Linked DNA regions of Homo sapiens: region 1 is linked to region 2. Evidence: fine-mapped expression QTL. A gene starts in region 2. The other region holds a variant in brackets. All regions are shown on one strand. Distances are from middle to middle. Region 1 overlaps MYH13 (myosin heavy chain 13). Region 2 holds the start of ADPRM (ADP-ribose/CDP-alcohol diphosphatase, manganese dependent).

The links.
Region 1: its variant is fine-mapped to the expression of ADPRM in Th17 cells (Schmiedel 2018, PIP 0.95).

The regions. Positions count from the first base shown.
Region 1 is chr17:10,309,908-10,318,237 of GRCh38, reverse strand. MYH13 (myosin heavy chain 13) reads left to right here. Exons shown (of 41, transcript NM_003802.3): 28 at 2,213-2,339; 29 at 2,427-2,545; 30 at 4,884-5,080; 31 at 5,481-5,664; 32 at 6,162-6,327; 33 at 7,011-7,135. It overlaps LOC107985004 (a long non-coding RNA gene), which reads right to left. Exons shown (of 5, transcript XR_007065617.1): 2 at 371-740. Among named protein-coding and RNA genes, the nearest start is that of MYH13, 59 kb to the left of the region's middle. RefSeq lists an enhancer at 8,306-8,330. The variant A/T (reference allele first, on the strand shown) is at 3,886.
Region 2 is chr17:10,694,266-10,702,595 of GRCh38, reverse strand. ADPRM (ADP-ribose/CDP-alcohol diphosphatase, manganese dependent) reads right to left here and starts at 5,002. Exons shown (of 4, transcript NM_020233.5): 1 at 4,929-5,002. It overlaps SCO1 (synthesis of cytochrome C oxidase 1), which reads left to right and starts at 5,063. Exons shown (of 6, transcript NM_004589.4): 1 at 5,063-5,361; 2 at 6,765-6,855. The coding sequence starts at 5,089. RefSeq lists a silencer at 4,635-4,964 and enhancers at 5,085-5,134, 4,850-5,144, 4,438-5,262, 5,263-6,086.

The sequences.
Region 1 (8,330 bases), 380 kb after region 2:
ACTGTTTCGCTCTTGTTCCCCAGGCTGGATTGCAGTGGCGCCATCTCAGCTCACTGCAACCTCTACCTCCCAGGTTCAAGCAATTCTCCTGCCTCAGCCTCCCAAGTAGCTGGGATTACAGGCACACGCCACCAGGCCTGGCTAATTTTTGTATTTTTGGTAGAGTTGGGGTTTCACCATGTTGGCCAGGCTGGTCTTGAACTCCTGGCCTCAGGTGATCCACCCACCTCAGCCTCCCAAAGTGCTGGGATTACAGGCATGAGCCACTGTGCCTGGCCGATTGGGGCTCTTTAAGAAAAAAGTATACAAACTTATAAAAATTAGGCATGAAAGTTGATATTTAAAATGAGACAAAAAAGTCGCAGGTTACCTTGAAGACTCAAGTTCTTTTCTCCTGAGGCCTCTTTGGGCCATTTGCCAGAAATGCCTTCTAGAATATTCTGCTTGTGATGGCTCCTCTTCCCTTGAACCTTCTGCAGCTCCCAGACTCTCTGTGGCCCATGCAAATGCGGGCCCTGAAGCTTATTTCACAAGCTTCATAGTGAACCCACCTCTGTGCATGGCCTCAAAGCAAAGAATTCCTCGTGGAGCATGTGTGCTCCTCGATTTAACACGTGCCCTCCTTGCAGGGTGCTCTGAGCTGTACTAGGAGCTGTTTGGCTAGACTGGAAGAAGCAGTGGTGACCCTAGAAGCGAGGCTGTGGGCCTCTCACCGAGGGTTTCCCGGAAGGTCAGGGCATCTGTCCAGAAAAGGAAGGGAGATATGAATCAGAGAACTAGAGTGGTCTCTCCAGCGCCCCCTGCTGCCAGTGTTTAGGGTCTGCGTCCACGCAGCCCTGTGCCTCCTTGATTGCTTCTTCACTCCGCGACTGCAGCCTCTGGCTCCGGCTGATGACTCCTTTTCTCTTTCTTTCCTGCTTTCCCATGTGTTTGCCCTTTTTCCCTTGGTTTTCTTTCTTCCTCTAAGAACTTGGTTCTGTAAATGTTCCCCTCCCACACCTCTCTCTCGGCGAGCCAGGCCAGCCTGCAGGGGTAGCTGGGTAGGAAGGGCCTCCAGCATCCCCCATACACTATGCCTATAAACAGCCCCCACTCCAGCCTCCCTATCTCCAGAATTGCCGTGTGCTGCTCTCTGTTCTCAATTTTAACATCCAGGGGAAGCAGCACGTCATGTCTCTTAACGCTTTTTCAGTTGTCCCCTTTGACGATTCTCCTTGCAAGCTGCCATCGCGTTTCAACTCTCCCTGCTTTGATTCCTTCATGTTTGCGTGTCATCTTCTCAAAGAGATCCTAAGCTCCTCCAGGACGCCCGTGGAATTAGTGTCCCTGCTTCCTCCACTGCCATCTCATACTTACCATTCTAAAGAAAAACATATGCTCTATACATTTTATTTTCTATTTTATGGAGCAGCAGGAGGAGAGAAAGGTCAACACACACAAGGGTTTTGAACAAACTTCACAAAAATACAGGCCAACTGGAAGCCAGAGAGGTGAATCTCTTCATACGGCCTGCACCATGGGGAACCTTCTGTGTTATTGAATGAAATGCTTAACACTGTCATCTGAATATATTGCTTGCAAATATTCACAGGCTTGTATTGCTTGCAATTATTCACGAATCACTTATATTACAAGAGGATCCCAAAGATCCACTTAAAAGTGACATCTTCTCAAAGGGTTGTTTACAAATCATTAAATACTTATCTACCTGATGTTCCAAGTGATTGGTGATTGAGCTGCATTCACAAATCTGAAATAATTATGATTTTTTTTTTTGAGACGGAGTTTCACTCTTGCCGCCAAGGCTAGAGTGCAATGGCATGATCTCGGCTCACTGCAACCTCCGCCTCCCGAGTTCAAGCGATTCTCCTGCCTCAGCCTCCCGAGTAGCTGGGATTACAGGCATGCACCACCACGCCTGGCTAATTTCTGTATTTTTAGTAGAGATAAGGTTTCACCATGTTGGTCAGGCTAGTCTCAAACTCCTGACCTCAGGTGATCCACCCTCCTCGGCCTCCCAAAGTGCTGGGATTATAGGCGTGAGCCACTGCGCCTGGCCGATTATGATTTTTTTGAAACTGAACTTTTTTTTGTTCTGTACTTTTATTTTTATTTTACCTGACAAGAAACTAAATGATTACACTGTTCAGTTCAATGCTGGGCACTAGGAATCCATTTCTTCCCATTCGTGTTGACTTTCTGTTTGTTAAAGAGTAACATAGAAAGAACGTGCCGGACGGTAGAAGATCAATTTAGTGAAATCAAAGCCAAGGACGAGCAACAGACACAGTTGATCCATGATCTGAACATGCAGAAAGCAAGACTGCAGACCCAAAATGGTGAGAATGGGCAGGGCTCTGGGTCCAGCCGGGCCATGGGAGAGGGTGGTCAGTAACACTGACGTGGGGGCCACATCTGTTTGGTAGGGGAGCTGAGCCACCGAGTGGAAGAGAAGGAGTCTCTGATTTCACAGCTGACCAAAAGCAAGCAGGCCCTCACCCAGCAGCTGGAGGAGCTTAAGAGGCAAATGGAAGAAGAAACCAAGGTAAAGATATAGAGTCAGATTGAACCTGAGAAGCCAGGCTATATGACCACTTCACCCGTGAAGCTGGTCAGAGCAGTGCTACATCAAGAAATCTGCTGCAGCTGGGCACGGTGACTCACACCTGTAATCCCAGCACTTTGGGAGGCCAAGGCAGATGGATCACGAGATCAGGAGTTCAAGACCAGCCTGGCCAAGATGGCGAAACCCCGTCTCCACTAAAAATACAAAAAAAAATTAGCTGGGTGTACTGGCAGGTGCCCGTAATCCCAGCTACTCGGGAGGCTGAGGCAGACAATTCCTTGAACCCAGGGGGCGGAGGTGGCAGTGAGCTGAGATCACGCCACTGCACTCCAGCCTGGAAGACAGAGCGAGACTCCATTAAAGAAAGAAAGAAAGAAACCTGTTGCTTCTCCTGTCTGCCTTGCAGCATGGTGGGAACCTGTCCTTTAAGGTTAGAGGACCTTGGCACTGGATCTCCTTCTTCAGGAATAGAAAACCGTACCTATGGTGGTCCATCCCCTGGCCTCCTCTGTCCCCCGCAGGGTGGTCTGAGAAACTCCCCTTTCCAGCCAGGGCACCTCCTCCCCATCACTGCACACACTTGATCATTCTGCCCAGCAATTCATCCTGGCCACCTGAAATCCCCCTCCTCTTTCTTCTTCATTATTCCTGATGTGTCACCTCCTATACCACCTGATTTTAAGCTCCCCTCCTCCAAGAAGGCTCCATGGTTTTGGGAGCACCCTTGAGACAGTCGCATAAACATGAACATCATCACCTTCTTGATTTCAATGTCTAGATATTGTGTTTATAATACATGTCTCCCCACAGATCTATAAACTCATGGAGGGCAAGAATAGTTTGTCCCCACTGTACCTACTGTGCCTAGCAGAACAGTGCACACAGTAGGTACTTGGTGCTGCCAATTCATATTCAAGTATCAGAATAGGGGACTAAGAGTCCAAAAAACTGCATGAATGGAATTCCGAGGTTGCTGTACGCTGGCTAAGACTTATAGGGCAATCTTTTGGAATTTTCCCAAGCTCCACCTTTTTCTTCTGAAAAAGGACAAGCGCCATATTTGTCTCCCATCTTTCTGTTGTATGGTAAAGATCTTTGGTAGATGAGGGGAAAGGGGAAGTGGTGAGAACCCAAGCCTGAACAAGTACTGAGAAGAGCCACTGCAGGAGCGGGCTGTCCTTTGGCAAGAATACAGCAACAGCTGAGTTTTCCTTCTTAGGCAAAGTGTGTCATTTATTGCCTTTTTTTTTTTTTTTGAGATGGAGTTTCACTCTTGTTGCCCAGGCTGGAGTGCAATGGCTCGATCTTGGCTCACCACA[A/T]CCTCTGCCTCCTGGGTTCAAGTGATTCTCCTGCCTCAGCCTCCCAAGTAGCTGGGATTACGTGCATGTGCCACCATGCCCGGTTTTGTATTTTTAGTAGTGACAGGGTTTCTCCATGTTGATCAGGCTGGTCTCAAACTCCTGGCCTCAGGTGATCCGCCCATCTCGGCCTCCCAAACTGCTAGGATTACAGGCATGAGCCACCACGCTTGGTCTATTGCATTTTTAAAAAGATGAAAATGTACAAATTACTGAAGTGGGCTGACAGAACTCTCTCTTTGATGGTGGCACCAGAGGGCGTCTTGTGGCCATTATAGTCGGAGCTAAACTGTTGCCCTTACATCCCTCCAATGGGAGGGAGTGAGGGATGGAGGCCTCTAGGCATGTCTTCTCTGCCTAGGAGGAGGAAGTCCAGCCGTGGAAACAGCGAAGCTCACATCAGCAATCCCCAGTGTGGGGACATAGCCCAGTGGTGACATCAAAAGATGCTTTCAGGCTTCTCCTGGTCACAGCATTCCATACCATTGCATCAAGTAGTGAGAAAATTATTCCCTTTTTAATTGTTCCAATCCTTCTGATTATATCAAGGAAAAGGCCTCAGTGTGAACCACACTTCCTTAGCATTTGCTTATTTACCCTATTAAGAAATAGAGGGTAGACCCCAGGCATGGAGTCCCAGCAGGCAACAGTACCTAGCTAGACATGATAACATTGCTTTATTTCCATTGCACTTATGGTTACCTTCTGTTTATGGCAAATGTCAATGGTTTTCCACTTACTTTCCTGTGACAGTTTACTCTTTTGTTAAATATATTTAAATATAATTAAGGAGTCCACTTGAAAAAAAATTAAATAAACCAGGTGATATGCTGATATGGCAAAATTGGTGAAGACAGCATAGGGATAATTCAAGTTGGGGGAAAGCGATTTAAATGAAAATACCTGAACTTGGAAAAGGGTCAAATGTTTTTGCAATTTGTCACCGCTGTCATTCCCAGGCCAAGAACGCCATGGCGCACGCCCTGCAGTCCTCCCGCCACGACTGTGACCTGCTGCGGGAACAGTATGAGGAGGAGCAGGAAGCCAAGGCCGAGCTGCAGAGGGCGCTGTCCAAGGCCAACAGTGAGGTTGCCCAGTGGAGGACCAAATACGAGACGGACGCCATTCAGCGCACAGAGGAGCTGGAGGAGGCCAAGTAGGGGCTCCAGGGTGGCAATAGCAGAGGGGGCCCGAGGACACAAGCCAAGGGACCAGGAGTCTTCATATCTTGAGAGATTCTTTCCTGCCCACGCCTTTGTGGTTTCTGAAACACTCGGATTGTACCCCCCACCCTCTGGGGGTCTCCCTGTCCTTCTTCTCGGGAACTGTCCATTCCACCTAGCTCCCTGGAGGTGCTCCTTAGGGACCTGCTTTGCCACCAAGCATTTTGAGAATCTCTCGGTGACACTTGGATCCTCCCCACTCACCAAATCCTAGGTCTTGGTCTCATCAAACACCAGTCCCTTCCACGCTATTCATTTCTCTTCCCATCTGACAGTTACCTACTGAAATATTCCACCTTTGCGAAGGGGAAAAAAAAAATCTGGTTTTCGTAGGAAAAAACTGGCCCAGAGGCTCCAGGAAGCAGAGGAGAACACGGAGACGGCGAACTCCAAGTGCGCATCGTTGGAGAAAACCAAGCAGAGGCTGCAGGGAGAGGTGGAGGATCTGATGCGGGATCTGGAGCGCTCCCACACCGCCTGTGCCACACTGGACAAGAAGCAGAGGAACTTCGACAAGGTCCTTCCCCAGCCGCTTTCTTTGTGAAGATGGCATGAGGATAATTCAAGTTGGGGAAATGCTATTTACATGAAAATACCTGAATTTGGAAAAGGGACAAATGTTTTGCAGTGGCAGTGGTGAAAACAACAGTTTCACGCTTAGATGTGTGAGATACCTGCACATCCTAGAAGGCCCCCAGTTGGAGCATCATTTCCCAGTTTCAGGGACTTGAGGTGTCTTCTTGACTACTGTGACAGTCCCTCCAAAGGCAATTTTATTTTTAGTGAAAGCTAATTCCGTTCCACTGAGATTATAATGTCTGTGAGAATGCAGCAGAGGGTCTGCAGGGATATCACAGTTTGGGGTCCCTGATCTAGAACAGTGCTCCTCCTCCTTCTTCAGTCCCTAAGGATGGAAGGGCAAAACGTTGGTGTTACTGACAGCCCTTGTTTGCATGAACTCTTCTGAGTCACCCCTGCTTTCTGCTTCTCCCATGTCCCTTTGTCATCTCCCAGGTCCTTGCAGAGTGGAAGCAAAAGCTGGACGAAAGCCAGGCTGAGTTGGAAGCTGCTCAGAAGGAGTCCAGGTCACTCAGCACTGAACTCTTCAAGATGAGGAATGCCTATGAGGAGGTGGTGGACCAGTTAGAGACACTGAGGCGAGAGAACAAAAATCTGCAAGGTGAGCTGTCTCCACCACTGGTGTGTGCTATGTCCCCCTCTCCTCCTGCCAACCCCTTCCCCATTTGGCCACAGCCATCTCCAGACACCTCCTTCCCACTGCCCCACACGATCCTCACCCATCATGCCTCACATTGACTCAGTTTGCCCCAAGGCCCAGACCTTTTTAATGTAAGGCACGGCAGCAGCTAAGTCTCATTTTTGAGAACTGAAGGAACAGTGGGTTGCTGAGCCCACTGCTCCGTTAGAGAAGACCCTTCAGTGATTCTGTCTCTAGGTGGCTTTGTATTCTTGCACATGCCACTGAATCCCTTAGGACCTCAGATTTCTGATCTACAAAATCAGAAGACCACACCCAACACTTTCCAAAGCCCCTTCTGGTTCTGCAGACTATGATTCTATGCGTTTTCCCCACAGTTGTTTTCTCTGGTCTTCTCTATGACCGTTTTGTATATGGTACTTTTGAAGTTTTAAGTTTCTATTCTTTACTTGTGGTTCCTGTCTGCCTAGTGCAGGTGAGGCAACACATCCCTGTCTTGCCAACACCTCATCTGAACGGCTGCCCTGTATTCTCTCCTGTATAAATGTCATGAATGAATCGCCCATCCCTGAATTGCCTGGCAAATGCCTATACTATAAACTGGAGCCTGTTGAAACAGCCTAAATCAAGCCTGTCCTTTGCAGAAGAGATTTCCGACTTAACTGAGCAGATTGCAGAAACTGGCAAGAATCTTCAGGAAGCGGAAAAGACCAAGAAGCTAGTGGAGCAGGAAAAGTCAGATCTGCAGGTCGCCTTAGAAGAAGTGGAGGTAAGTGTCTAGGATATGACATTCAGAAATTCAGGAGGACAGGGAACTGAAAGAGGCTGCCCTTCACCACCCCATGGGGCCTTTCCTGCCAGGAGACCCTGAGTCTCCATTGGGAGTAACATTCAGCCATCCCAGGGGCTGAAACATCCACGGGCTGCTACTTTATCTCCTAGGCGTTCTCTGGCACAGTTCCCCTTTGAAAATAAATAAATGTGTTCATTATGTTCTTCAATGTCTTCCTCTCAGGAAGCAGAAAATCAATCACCTAACATCCTGAGAGCAGCGCAGAATCTCTCAGTTATGTTTAACATAGAGGCACAGACAATCATTTTTGGCTATCAAGAATCCTGTATAATCCAAACACACCCAGCATCTCCCGATGCAGTAATCGGTGGTGGTCAGGATGGCTGGTGGTTTCTAGGGAAATACGAACCGACACAGGATAACAGGAGAGCAGTTGCCCTGTCATTTTAGAGAATAGGTTGACTCCTGATTTATGGTCACTATTATAATAGATACCCTCAATAAAATTTTCACTAATTAAGAAAGATACTCTATCTCAAGTCATAAAATAATTTGTTCATGAGCGATGCAAAGTTTTAGTCCCAGTTTCATCACTATTAGGGATATTTGGGAGCAAGCCAAATACTCAGACCTCTCTGAATATTGTTCTCTTCATCTATAAAATGGGTATAAGAATACCTATTTGCAGCCGGGCATGGTGGCTCACAACTGTAATCCTAGTACTTTGGGAGGCCGAGGCAGGCAGATCACCTGGAAGGTCAGGAGTTCGAGACCAGCCTAGGCAACATGGTGAAACCCTGTCTTTACCAAAAATACGAAAATTAGCCAGGCACAGTGGTGGGCACCTGTAATCCCAACTACTCGGGAGGCTGAGGCAGGAGAATCGCTTGAACCCAGGGGGTGGAGGTTGCATTGAGCCGAGATTGTGCCACTGCACTCCAGCCTGGGCAACAGAATGAGACTCTGTCCAAAAAAAAAAAAAAACACAAAACCTATTTGGGCTCTGGGCACCATGGCTCACACCTGTAATCCCAACACTTTAGGAGGCCAAGGAGAGAGGATCACTGGAGCCCAGGAGTTCAGGACCAGCCTGGGCAACACAGACCCTGTCTCTACCAAAAAAAAAAAAAAATTTAAATTTAATTTTTTTAAAAAAACGCATACCCATTTG
Region 2 (8,330 bases):
CTTCAATTTTTGGAGAAAATGAACTGACAAGAAATCCAACATAGAAAGAAACAATTCTGAATGATGGAAAGATGGAGATTTCTGAAAACATTAGTTGAATACCTAAATTCACCTGTCCCTGCTAGAACACTGGTCATTTAGTTACACATGTCAGCACATAAATTCTCCTGGGCTTAAAGCTAAATCAAATTGATTTTCTGTCATTTGATACCAAAATCCTCTCAAATACACCTTCCACTGGAACAAGTTCAGTTTAGAAAAACTCAAGGCTATCCTAAGAACTGGCAATTTTTAAGGAAAGTTAATGTGGAGAGAAGCACCAAGGGGCACACACTTCAAAACAGCGATGTGTTCTGGGGTAAAAAGAGAGATCCAAAGTGTTGAATATACATGGCTTTTAAAAATAAGGTTAGTATCTCCTTATCCAAAATGCTTGGGACCAGAAGTGTTTTAGATTTCGGACTTTTTCAGATTTTGGAATATACTTAACAGTTGAGCATTCCTGATCTGAAAATCCAAAATCCAAAATGCTCCAATTAACATTTCCTTTGAGCTTCATGTTGGTGCTCAAATTTCTGATTTGGGGCCATTTCAGATTTCAGAAACATATTCAGGGAAAGATAGGATCAGAAGTGAGTACGGCAGTGCAAAAAGAACCAGGTGGTCAGGGAATTGACTCTCCTGGCGAGTTTAGCCTTTCCTTTCTTGGTTCAGGGACATGTAGGGGGAGCTCAGAAAGATTGGTCCTGGTGAACAGAGAGATCAAAAACTCAAAGCCACCTCCAGTGAGGAAACTTAGAATTAATAAGCATTCTAATGTCAGGAAATGTTTTCAAAATAGCTCCCTCCCTCCATCAAATACAGACACACAAAAAAATCAGTGAGTACAGGATAATTGTGGAAGCTAGAAATGGGTGCATGAAGTTTATTCTAACTACTTTTATGTGTGTTTAAAAATGTACATATAGGCCAGGCGTGGTGGCTCACGCCTGTAATCCCAGCACTTTGGGAGGCCAAGGTGGGCGGATCACGAGGTCAGGAGATCGAGACCATCCTGGCTAACATGGTGAAACCCCATCTCTACTAAAAATACAAAAATTAGCCGGGTGTGGTGGCAGGCGCCTGTAGTCCCAGCTACTCAGGAGGCTGAGGCAGGAGAATGGTGTGAACCTGGGAGGCGGAGCTTGCAGTGAGCCGAGATCGCGCCACTGCACTCCAGCCTGGGCAACAGAGCGAGACTCCATCTCAAAAAAAAAAAAGTATACATAAAGTTTTTTTAAAAAAGAAAATTCAAAACTTTAGAGAAAATCAAATCTGGAAAAATTAGAAGACCTAAGGAAATATTTCGCTTTTGAATAGAAAGGAGAATGGCAAGTTTTTAGTGAACTTTGTTTTCAAAGTTTGCCTGCACCATTTATTACATGCTACGCTGTCTAAGTTTTAAAGAGGTATTATGAAGTGCTGAACCCTTTGAAATGAAAAACCCAGAACTGAATTATAGTCCTCGTGTTTCCTGAAGCAAAATAACCCTCAATAGGTTATCGTGAGCTTCAACTGAGTTATGATCACAGTAAACTATTACTCTGTAAATCTCTAAACCATAAAGTACTATACGCATGTTAAGAAAATAATTTTAAAATTATATATCTGAAAATCTGTCTAATGAGCCTCATAACTGAAACTACTGCAACATTTTAATAGAAGAGAATAATGTAGAAAAGTTTACAAGAGTTGCTCTCAAAATTCCTATCATGTCATAGTACAGGATAAGCAGCCAGTATTTTGAGAAAACTACCTTAGGCATGAGAGATTTTTTTTTTTTTTTTTTTCCTGAGACAGGGTCTGGCTCTACTGCGCAAGCTGGAGTGCAGTGGTGCGATCATGGCTCACTGTAGCCTCGACTTCCTGGGCTCAAGTGATCCTCCTAATTCAGCCTCCCTGGTAGCTAAGACTACAGGCATGTACCACCACACCTGACTTTTTTTGGCTTTTTTTTTTTTTTCTTTTGTAGAGATAGGGTTTTGCCATGTTGCCCAGGCTGGTCTCAAGCTCCTGAGCTCAAGTGATCCACCTGCCTCAGGCCTCCCATACCCAAGGATGCTTAATTACTGAAAAGTTACTACAAGATCATACTAATAGGGTTTTGCCATGTTGCCCAGGCTGGTCTCAAGCTCCTGAGCTCAAGTGATCCACCTGCCTCAGGCCTCCCATACCCAAGGATGCTTAATTACTGAAAAGTTGCTATAAGATCATACTAATAAAACTTTTCCAATACTTAAGATTGGCAGAAGGCTGAAGTTCCTTGTGGAAAGCCTTCAAGCATCAATAATGAACTTGTAAAAGAAGTAGCTCTACCCTGAAAAGAGTATGATTTCTTCACTCTATTGTCAAAGGTGAAGGGGGCAGCAGGGAAAGTCTAGAGATTAATAAAGAGAGACTTTGTTAGGAGAAACTATTGTAACAGAGGCTCCTAGCCTAAGGGTGCAGCATATGTTTTCTACGCAGATACCATACCAAAAGGAAAGTTAAGTTGGGGCAGGAAATGTTTGTGGTTAGGAGTTAGGCACAAGGGGCAGGGGCCTGGAACAAAAATGAAGTAAACACATTAGGGTGCTGGGAAGTTCACAAAAGTTAGGGCCTAGCTGTCCCCAGTCAAACCAGCCTAAAGTTATGTCAAGAACAAAATCTGATCACTATTGATAGAACCAATATCAGATGATACTAATCCATGCCCTGCTTCTCTCAAGAAAAATATCTAAATTGGGGCCGGGTGTGGTGGCGCAAGCCTGTAATCCTAGCACTTTGGGAGGCCGAGGCGGGCAGATCACGATGTCAGGAAATCGAGACCGTCCTAGCTAACATGGTGAAACACTGTCTCTACTAAAAATATATATATTTTTTAAATTAGACAGGCCTGGTGGCACGCACCTCTAGTCCCAGCTACACGGGAGGATGAGGCAAGAGAATCGCTTGAACCCAGGAGGCGGAGGTTGCAGTGAGCTGAGATCGCACCACTGCACACTCCAGCTTGGGCGACAGAGGGAGACTTTGTCTCAAAAAAAAAAAAAAAAAAAAAAGAAAGAAAAGAAAAATATCTAACTTGGAAAACAAAACATAAACCTCATTTGGTGACTTTGGTGGTTTCACAGCAGTAATAAAAGTGATAAGGTCTATAAGGGATAACACTGTAGGCGCCTTCTGGCACTAAAGTTTCATGGGTCCTTGCCATCAGGCTCAGGTGTTACTAGCAATTCATCCAAAATGCAGTTATAAAACACCTACTTTGAGCCAGGAACTATATTTTATATTTATTTTATTTATTTTTTAGAGGCAGAGTCTTGCTTTGTTGCCCAGACTGGAAGGCAGTGGCCCGATCACAGCTCACTGCAGCTTCAAACTCCTAGGCTCCAGTGACCCACTCACCTCAGCCTCCCAAAGTGATGGGATTACAGGCGTGAGCCACCACATCTGGCCCCAAGAACTGTTTTCAATGATAGCATTTTATTTAATATTATAAAATTAATATGAAGAAGTTGCTACTAAAAGAAGCACTTTAGCAAATAAAATTTAATAGATCAGGTAGAAACACTGACTTCAATCTTAATTTGGGTGGCTGATCAGGTAACCTACAATTGGGCAATCAGAGATGAACAATAATTTTGTATGCTATCTGCCTGACTACACAAGGTACTTTTATGTCTTTTTGTCAATTACAAGAAAAAATTATCCCTGGGCAAACAAATACACAAAGATAAAAGAGCAAAAATCCTACCCACAGGCAACTATAAGATAGAAAAAAATAGTTTGATTAACGACTTGAAGTGCTGAACAAACATTTAAGAACTTTGGCAGAAATTTCTGAAAATTCTAGTCCAACCGCGAATCAAGAAACACAGGTAACACTATGTTCCGTTACTGGGTTAGAGAACAGAACAGTTGGCTAGTTTGGCTAACTCATAGAAAACAAGCAAACCAACCATGCTCTGGTCCAACAATCATCAGAGCACGAGTTTCTCCTACTCAGAGTCGGTCCCATGGGGGAAAAAAAAGCCACACAGGAGCGGGATCTGTAGTTAAGGAAGATAATTAGAGGACGATTTTCCTTTTTTTATTTCTCTGTATTTTGTAAAGCAACCACCGAGGTAGGGGCGGGGAGGGAGTGGTTAATATTGCGGATATTAAGATATAAATAAAGGCAGATGAAATGAAGTTAGACTTTCACAAAGAACGAAAAACCTACGAATGCTCTTGGCCTCATTAACAAGGAACATAAGCAGTTCCAGATGAGGAACCCATAACAAACTTCAAATAACGAAACTGTAGGGAGCAAGGGAGTCCGTGAGAGTATTTTAAGAAACTGGGACCCAGGAAGACTAAGTTAACGGATGGGATATCATGCTGTCTATATTTCTTTACACACTGCTATGCTTTATTAATTAGGTTACATTATAATGTTAAATAACTAGAAGCGCTGGGCATTTAAAGTTCTTCCAGACCGCCCTAACCACTCAAATTATCCTAATTAGCAATTTTTTTTAAGTTAAAGACTATTTCAATCGCAATGGGTCGGTTTCTATTTCAAAGATGTAAAGGAGTCAACATTCTGGCACTTCCTCTTGGCCGGCAGGACGAGGTTGACAAAGTCGGCCAGACAAGGTAGGGTTATGGGGGCTGCCCAGTCCCGTGGGTCTCTAGGCAGTGTGTTCTCTCTTCCGAGGTGGGGGTGTCCCCGGCGCGAGGAGCTAGCTGTGGTCACCGAAGCCCACGACCAAAGCGGGGGCCCCCAGCGCTTGGGGCCGCCTTGCCTCGGCCCAGCCGCGCACCTGGACCCCTAAGGCAGCCCCCTTCCCGGCGCTCCGCTGTCCCGCGGCCCCGCAGCACCGCCCAGCCCGCGCCAGACCCGCCTCCAGCCGCAGGGAACTACCTACCGTGCGCCGGCCCCTGGGCTGAAAGGCCTCTGACTACGGGCTATGTAACAGCGCCACCAACGAGCGGGACGGACAGAGCGACTCCTTCCGACTTCCGGAGGAAGCGGAACGCTACCGGAAATCGCGGGGAGGGTCAAAGGAGACCCGGTCTCCGAGGCTCATGGCGATGCTGGTCCTAGTACCCGGACGAGTTATGCGGCCTCTGGGTGGCCAACTTTGGCGCTTCTTGCCTCGCGGACTCGAGTTTTGGGGCCCAGCCGAGGGGACTGCGAGAGTCTTGCTGAGGCAGTTCTGCGCGCGGCAAGCGGAGGCGTGGCGTGCCTCGGGGCGCCCTGGCTATTGCCTGGGAACCCGGCCCCTCAGCACTGCGAGGCCGCCACCCCCGTGGTCGCAGAAGGGCCCCGGAGACTCCACGCGCCCCTCGAAGCCCGGGGTGAGTGCACACCTGGAACCCTTCTGGTGCTCGTCGCGGCTGTCGGCCAGCCCAGCGGCCACATCCCACTTGGTCGTAACCTCAGACACTACTCCGCCTCCCCTAAAGTTGTCCTTAGCTTGCGCGCCTTACCTGGGTCATGGAATTTCATCCTACATTTCCCGTGCCTTGCGGGTAGTCCCAGTTCTCCACAGAGAACTTGAGACTTTACACCCTCTCCACGTGGCTGGATGCCCCGACTTGGATTTTATGTTAGCGTTTCCATCAAAAAAAAAAAAAAAATTAAGTTTCAGGTTTTCTTAAGGGTATGAACCTAAAGTTTACCGTGATTGAGAAGTCAGAGGACTTTTATAATTTGTCACTTGAGCCCCATCCAGAGTTCCATGTATACGTTGAAATTGAAACAAAAAGTGGAACTTAGTTATGTGTGGATCTGCCTTTTTCTTGGGGTTCTCTCGAGTTCTAATTCTGACCCAGAAATAACTTGAGAGCCACTACCCTGTGGTAAGAGAAGTGGGTTTTTGGAGCTACGGGAAGGTTAATGAGTTAGGCCTAGTCTAGTTGGCCAACATCATCTTCATTTGGGGAGTTGAATAAGGGTACAAAGAAATAATGGGTGTAATTTGCAAGAAGCTCCACTTTTAGATTCCTCTTCTACTTTGGCATTGTTACTTCTGGAAGCCAGAGTTAAGTTAACCTCCCAAATTTCGTTTGGTCTATTTATCTCAGTATCAGCATAAGCAGATAATTGTTTTTTGTGTGTGTGTTTTTGGATTTTGGTTTTTGTTTTGAGACGGAGTTTTGCTCTTTTGCCCAGGCTGGAGTGCAGTGGCCCTATCTCGGCCCACTGCAACGTCCGCCTCCCGGGTTCAAGCGATTCTCCTGCCTCAGCCTCCCGTGTAGCTGGGTTTAGAGGGGTCCGCTACCACGCCCGGCTAATTTTTGTATTTTCAGTGGAGATGGGGTTTCACCATGTTGGCCATGCTGGTCTCAAACTCCCGACCTCAGGTGATCCACCCGCCTCCGCCTCCCAAAGTGCTGGGATTACAGGCGTGACCCACCGCGCCCGGCCATAATTGGTTTTAAAGTCATTACTGGAGCTAGGGTCACACATAGTAACAATCGTGGTACTTGAGCTTTTTTTTTTTTTTTTTTTTTTTTTTATTTACATGAAGAGAACTGACTTAGGGAACTTTCCCCTGGAGATGAATGCCTTTGTAGTTCAGATCCCAGACCTAACTGCATCCACAGAAACTTTGAGCATTTTCTCATCCCTGAAACATTTTGCACATTTAACATCATGGCCTGTGTGTATGTATATTAAAAACTACTTTAATAAGTTTGTATGGTTAAATGTTTGCATCTTACTAGAATTTTTATGTTTGAAATCCCTGCCCCAGTAGCCTGTTTCCTGGAAGTCTTTAGCAATCACATTTGCTATTGGAGGAGCTTTACTGGCTGGAATGAAGCACGTCAAGAAAGAAAAGGCAGAGAGTAAGTAGATTATCATCTGCTCAGCCCTGTATAAAGGTCTTCCTGGCTATGGACTAGCACCTTTTTTGTTGTTTTTTAGCTTTTTGTTTTGAAACAACTTTAGATTTACCAAAAAATTGCAAAGATAGCATAGGTTCTACATACCTTTCACCCAGCTTCCCCTAATATTAACATCTTGTATAACCATGACACATTTTTCATGACTAAGAAATTTTAAATGGCACACAACTATTAAATTACAGATTGTATTTGGATTTCACTTGTTTTTCTATCAATGTCTTTTATTTGTTCCAGGATCCAAGCTAGGATACCACTGCATAACAATGTTAAAAGATATACTGTGGATAGATTTGACTGGGCAAGATGAAATCTGGAGGGTACGAAGATGAGTAAGATGTAGTCGAGCCTTTGAGGTGCACACGGAAGGGAAACAGACACAGAAGTAAAGTATTTTACTAGATGCGATTCTGCCAGGCCAGAAGGAAGCTTACCATGTTGTGAGAGCAAAAGCAAGTCCCAGCCTTGAGATTTGAGAAGGCTTCCTAGAGATCAGGCAAGGAGCATAGTGCGAGTAGATACTGCATGCCCTCTGTGGATGAGGGGGAGGTGAAAAGAGCCTGGTCAGGAAATGCCAGGAACTGCTCTGGATTAGCATCTTGAAATATTTAGAAATTATTTATAAGAACTTTGCATTTTAGTGAATATCCTAGGACTTTTAAGATTTGGTTTAGAGGTTTTAGGTAAATCTTTAAAGTATTGCTTAAATCTTTCCATTCTTTGGAGTCTCTTTTGATAACATTATATACAAAGGTTAATGATTAAATCTGGGAATTCATAGGCTTTAGGAACTTAGCAGTGTTAAGTTTTGTACTGACATACATATATATGAGACTCTTTGGCATAATAAGTAGTATTGGGTAAGATTTTCATAGTCTAATAAGCAGTAAGTTTCTTTAGTTTCACAAAGAAACAAAAGCTAGGAAAGTTGTGGCGGGAAAATTCTAGAATATGGAAGCTTTTTTTGACTTTAGTTTGGAATTTCAAGTGCAATTCTAACGTTTGTTTTATTTAAAAAATGTATTATTAAATAATCTGAAAAGTCTTCCTAAATAATTTGAGAGTATTTATTTGCTGACATGTTGCGTCATTAGCTCCAAACACTTTTTGGTGTATTTCCTACAAACAAGGACCTTTTCTAGCATAACCACAATACAACCATCAAAATTAGAAAATTGACGCTGATAATTTTGCTGCTGTTCAGTGTTCAGATAATCTTCAGGGTATTGTTTATTTGTTTGTTTTTTGAGACAGAGTTTCACTCCTGTTGCCCAGGCTGGATTACAGTTCAGTCTTCCAAGTTTTGCCACTTGATGTCTTTCAGAGCAAAAGGATCTGTTTCAGAACCATACCACCTTGTATCTAGTTGTTTACCTTAGCCTCCTTCATCTGTAACAGTTTCCCAGGCTTTAACTGAC